Linked DNA regions of Homo sapiens: region 1 is linked to region 2. Evidence: fine-mapped expression QTL. Tissue or cell type: skeletal muscle. Region 2 holds a variant in brackets; the other region holds the start of a gene. All regions are shown on one strand. Distances are between the middles of the regions.

Region 1 (2,754 bases), 27 kb after region 2:
TTCATGTGATCTACAACCATCTCAAAATAAAAAGGTTTTCAAATTCTACCTAAGACCAGGTGCGGTGGTTAATGCCACTGCTGTATTACGACACAATTATCTGTATTCCCAGCGCTCTGGGAGGCTGAGGTGGGCGAACTGCTTGAGGTCAGGAGTTGGAGATCATCCTGGGCAACACAGCAAGACCCTGTCTCTATTAAAAATGAAATAATTAGCCGGGCGTGATGCTCCCTGTGGCCCCAGCTCCTGGGGAGGCTGAGGCGGGAGAATCGCTTGAGCCTTGACCAGCCACTGCACTCCAGCCTGGGCGACAGCAAAACTCTGTCTCAACAACCACAAAAAAGCTTTAGAATATTTAAGTCAAGCCTGTAGGAGAAAAAAACTACAAATATTTCACAAGTAATCCAATCATTAAGACACTCCTTTTGAAAAAGCCGGTAAATAAGATAAATTTGGAAGACAGAATAATCAGAAAAACAGGCAGTGAATAGGGACCCGATACGCAGCGGTCTTGCTTCCCCCGCGCAGGCGTCCACACCCTGGGTCATGGACACCGTGAGGAGCCGTTAGGAGTCACAGGAGGGGGGCCAGGGACAGGGCTGCATCTCTGCGGCCGGCCCTGGAGGCCCCGAGTCCACCCGGGCGGCCAGGGTGGGAACGCAGGTTCCATTCCAGGTTAGAACGTGGGCCTCAGCGAAGAGCGCCTAGGCAAGGCCTGGAGGAGCGGGACCCCAGGCCACACAGACCACCCGACCCCGGGAGACAATACCTGCAAGAAAAGGGGAGCCCCGAGGAGAGAGAGAGGGGAGGTGAGCCCCAGGGAGGGAGAGAGAGGAGGGGAGCCCCAGGGAGGGAGGGAAGGAAGGAAGGGGACCCCTGGGAAGGGAAGAAGGGAATGGGAGCCCCGGGGAGGGAGAGAGGGGAGCCCCAGGGAGGGAGGGAAGGAAGGAAGGGGACCCTTGGGAAGGGAAGAAGGGAAGGTGAGCCCCGGGGAGGGAGAGAGGGGAGGGGAGCCCCAGGGAGGGAGGGAAGGAAGGGGACCCCGGGAAAGAGCCCCGGATGGACGGGCCTGGTGCTCACCGGGACGCAGGGATCCGCGCCCGCCCGTCCGGCCCGAGCATCACCGTTCCGCGGCCTGGGCCGGGCTCTGAGGCGCCAGGACCCGAGGGGCGGAGGGGGACGCTGTCTCCCGCCTCGGAGCGCAGCGCCGGAGGGCTTCCTTGCATCCCTTCCCAGGCGGGACCAGGGAGGCCGGGAGGCCGGGAGTCCGGGAGGGAGCGGCCGCCGCCCTGCCCAGCACCGCCCCCGCTCAGCCAAGCCGACCCGGACTCCCGCCCAGCCGCAGTCACTGCCCCCTTTAAGAGGCGGGGCGTGGGCGGGTCCCGTCGGCCGCGGGCGGCGAGCACTTCCTGGCCGGCGTGGGGCCTGGCAGCCGCAGGCTGGCGTTGGACCCCGCAGGGGCGAGCCAAGGCCCTCGCAGAGGGCTGGACGCGCAGGGGCTGTGGGGCGCGAGCTCCCGTGGGCCCCCGGGCGGCGCTGAGCATGCCGGGAGTGGGAGTCCCCGCGGCCGGCTCCCGGCACTGCCCCGGAGCCGAGGGCCGCGGCCGTCCGAGGACGAGGGCGGAGCCGCCGCCGCGCCTGCGCAGAAGGCCGGGGCCGGCCAGAAGCGGGCGGCGCGGGGGAGATGGTAGGTGGCCCGGCGTCGCCTCTGCCCGTCGGGGTCGGGGTCGGGGTCGGGCCCCAAGGTCGGCGCAGGCGGCGCGCTGGATGTGGGAGGCCGAGCCCAGCGAGCTGCGCGGGGCGTTCCGCGTGGATCCGAGGGAGGAACGCGCCGCGGGCCCGCGAGCCGGAGCGGTGGCGTCGGAGGCGCGGGACCGCGGGGAGCGCGGGTTTGACCCGGAGCCGCGAGGGACGACCGGGAGTGAGCGGAGGGCGGGGGCCGGGAGGAACTGTAGGGGCCTTGGGGCAGGGGCCGGGGCCGAGCGGGAACCCAGGCCGGGGGCTTCCCAGGGCGGCTTCGAAACGGGCAGTCGAGGCGGGCGAGGGCTCGGCTGCTCCTGCGGGCGTCTGTGCAGATGCTGAGGCTGTTGACCAAAACAGCGCAAGGAAGGAATCCGCGAGAAGCTCAGATTCGCGGGGGAGGCCCTGCTGCCGGGAGGGGAGGGAGAGGCACAGCGGGGCCCTAGCGCGGGCTCTAGCCGGGAGCTGTAGCGTGGCTGTAGGTGTGCATCTGTGGAGCTGGTAGAGTTCCGCAGCGCAGGAGGGAGGCTGCTGGAGGTGCACATCAGTTACTTTGAAATGTGGTGGAAATGGTGATGGATGGGATTTATTCAGTCCACATCGGTTCAGAGGCCAGCAAGGTGCTGCTGGGTGTGACTGGTGCTGGGCCAGGCATGATCTTGGCGTTGAGGGAGTTGATGCCCCAGCAGGGGAGACAGGCACCAGATGCACAATTGTTTGACCACAGTTGGGACAAAGGCTAAGGCACGGGTTCCAGGAACTTGTAGGATGCGGCTGTGGGAGTGGTGTCAGATGCTGAGGGTGTGAGTTGAACTGTGGAGAATTTCTCTGGAAATTAGCCAGAGAAAAAGTGAGGTTCCGGGGCAGCCAGCCGTGTGCGGCTCCAGGCAGAAGAAACAGAATGCACAGACCCTTAGTGGTAGGCGATGATGACGTATAGGAGCTGAAAGATTGTCCTGGCTAAGGCACAGAGAGCCACCGGAGAAGGGACACGGTAACGTGTAGAGGGGAGTG
Region 2 (2,754 bases):
AATTAAATTTTTGGTGAACAAAATATCTTGGCTTAGAATTTTAAAACAGTCTGAACAGACGATGACGTTAAGCTGTTGTGGCTACAGCTTTGTGCCTTTTAGGGTTACACGATTCAGGAGATGATAAAATTGCCTCCCAACTAATATTGTCCATGCGGAGGCTTCACAGATCAGCGATTTTCACCCTAAGGCTCGCATGGGCTTGTGGTCACCGCATCTCTCTTCATCTCGCAGCCTTCGCAAGACGGGAGGGAGGCTGCGAGATGAGTCTGTGGGATGCAAAGGAGCCACGGCCACCCCACATCTTCCGCAGATAACACGTTCACACCTGCGCCCCTTCTATTTAAAAGAAACAAAATCTCTCACTACATCTCACTTTTTAGAGATAGCCTTTGATGATATTACTGCCAGCATTTTGTAAATGTTTTAAATATTTTGTTCTCTTCCTTTGCACCGATCATAGTGAACTGGCTGAAATCAACAGACACTCAACTGTTGCCCGCTAGGCCATGGGCACCACAGAGCAGAGACCAGGTCTTCACCAAGGTCCCTGATGCAGGACCCCGAGTCCACACCCACAGGGCCTGCGCAGGAAACACTGCTCACGAGGGACTTCACGGGGCTGCAGGAGGAAGACAAGTGCTCGGAGTAGTGACGGGCACAAAACTTCAGCAGTGCAACCAGACAAGATGAAAATATTACCACACTGAAATATTACAATTTCTCTAATTTCTCAACACTTTCACTATTGTCATCTTTCTGAAATCTGCACTACCTTTTTGTGCTTATCACTACTATAAGCATTTTGATTTCTTCCTGTTTTCCATTCCTTTTATTAAACAGTTTAAATATACAGAGAACAAGGAGTATATCAAATGCTCACATACCCACTAAGGAATTTGCTAAATTTTAAACCTGTAACATATTTGCTTCAGATTTTTAAAGAAATAAAGTCCTAAGGGTGCCGCCAAGGAGCTCTGTAAACCCCTTGCTGTGGGGCCCCTCTTCCCTCCACCCACACTCCCCACAAGGAGGTCTGTAAACCCCGTGCTGTGGGGCCCCTCTTCCCTCCACCCACAGTCCCCACTTGACCTTATTCTGAAAGTTCATCATCCCCTTGAATGCATTTCTACTTAATGTTAACACCTATAGATCTGGAGGCAACACTGAGTTTATTATTTTGTAATATTAAACTTCACAGAATCAACATTTCTGCGACTTGCCGTTTTTGACCACCACTATATCTGCAAATTATCCATGTTGATGCACAAAGCTCTGATTCATTTTTAAAACTGTTGTAGAACAGACCACAGTTTATCCATTCATCTCTTGGTGGACGTTCAGGAATTCCATTTATTCACTAATACAAAAATGGCTGCATGTAATCCCAGCACTTTGGGAGGCCAAGGC[G/A]GGCGGATCACGAGGTCAGGAGATCGAGACCATCCTGGCTAACACGGTGAAACCCCGTCTCTACTAAAAATAGAATTAGCCGGGCGTGGTGGCGGGCGCCTGTAGTCCCAGCTACTCGGGAGGCTGAGGCAGGAGAATGGCGTGAACCCGGGAGGTGGAACTTGCAGTGAGCTGAAATTGTGCCGTTGCACTCCAGCCTGGGCGACAGAGCGAGACTCCTCCTCAACAACAACAACAAAGGCTGCATGAATATTCTAGCACATTGTGGGGGAAACCTCCTTTCCCCTCGCTTGCATTTTCACAAGAAGGGAATGTTTCCTCACCACTCCTGGCCTCTTGCCTGGTCCCACATACATTACTCCCAGGGAGACAAGGGCGCTCTTCCTGGAAATGGATAGAGCCCGTCTTCCTTTGTGAACCAGCCAGCCCACGGCACCTGGTCTCAAGGTTCTCTTGCAGACCTGAGTTTCACAGGGCAGGCCCTGCCCACGGAGGCCTCTGGAGGCCAACGCTGCTTGTGGCTGGACAATGAGTCTTGCTCCGAGGTTAAGAATGAAGCCTAAGAAGCTCATCACTGCCAGGCATGCAAACCACACCTTCTTCACAATCCAGCTGCCATTCTGACCTCCAGGTGCCTGCCTCCTCTGTTCCTCTTTCTATGTGTTTTCAGCACAGGCAAGGCAGAGTGGAGTTACACATTTACTGGACTCCTTCGAGGGTTGGGCCCCTCGAAGGGGCTAGAAATCTTGAGAAATAGAAAAGGAGCAGAATTTGCATCAAAATCCATGTAAGAAGAGTGACTGAGGCCGCTGCTGTGGCCAGAGCTAACACCTTTAAGCTCTGGTGAGACAGTCTTAAGTTTGGGCTATATACAAATTTCTTTTCTTTTCTTTTCTTTTTTTTTTTTTTGAGATGGAGTCTCACTCTGTGGCCCAGGCTGGAGTGCAGTGGTGTGAACTCAGCTCACTGGAAGCTCCGCCTCCAGGGTTCAAGCAATTCTTGTGCCTCAGCCTCCCGAGTAGCTGGGGATTACAGGCGTGTGCCACCATGCCCGGCTAATTTTTATATTTTCAGTAGAGATGAGGTTTTGCCATGTTGGCCAGGACGGTCTTGAACTCCTGACCTGATGTGATCCACCTGCCTTGGCCTCCCAAAGTGCTGGGATTACAGGCATGAGCCACCATGCCTGGACATATATAGGAATTTCTAATAAAATTTCAAGCATATGCAAAAGTAGAAAGAAAAATACAGTGCATCTCAAGGAACAAATAATCCAGTTTCCATGATCAGGCAGACTAACCTTGTTTCATACACTAACCTCCACTCTACCCTCCTAAGGGAAAC

The links. PIP is the estimated chance that this variant, and not a neighbour inherited with it, causes the effect.
Region 1: SLC9D1 starts here. The variant in region 2 is fine-mapped to the expression of SLC9D1 in skeletal muscle (FUSION, PIP 0.95).

The regions. Positions count from the first base shown.
Region 1 is chr13:113,489,600-113,492,353 of GRCh38, reverse strand. SLC9D1 (solute carrier family 9 member D1) reads right to left here and starts at 1,333. Exons shown (of 13, transcript NM_017905.6): 1 at 1,081-1,333. It overlaps DCUN1D2 (defective in cullin neddylation 1 domain containing 2), which reads left to right and starts at 1,643. Exons shown (of 7, transcript NM_001014283.2): 1 at 1,643-1,687. The coding sequence starts at 1,685. RefSeq lists a silencer at 1,023-1,942 and an enhancer at 2,173-2,472.
Region 2 is chr13:113,516,131-113,518,884 of GRCh38, reverse strand. The region is part of intron 7 of SLC9D1 (solute carrier family 9 member D1); the gene reads right to left. Among named protein-coding and RNA genes, the nearest start is that of SLC9D1, 26 kb to the right of the region's middle. The variant G/A (reference allele first, on the strand shown) is at 1,411.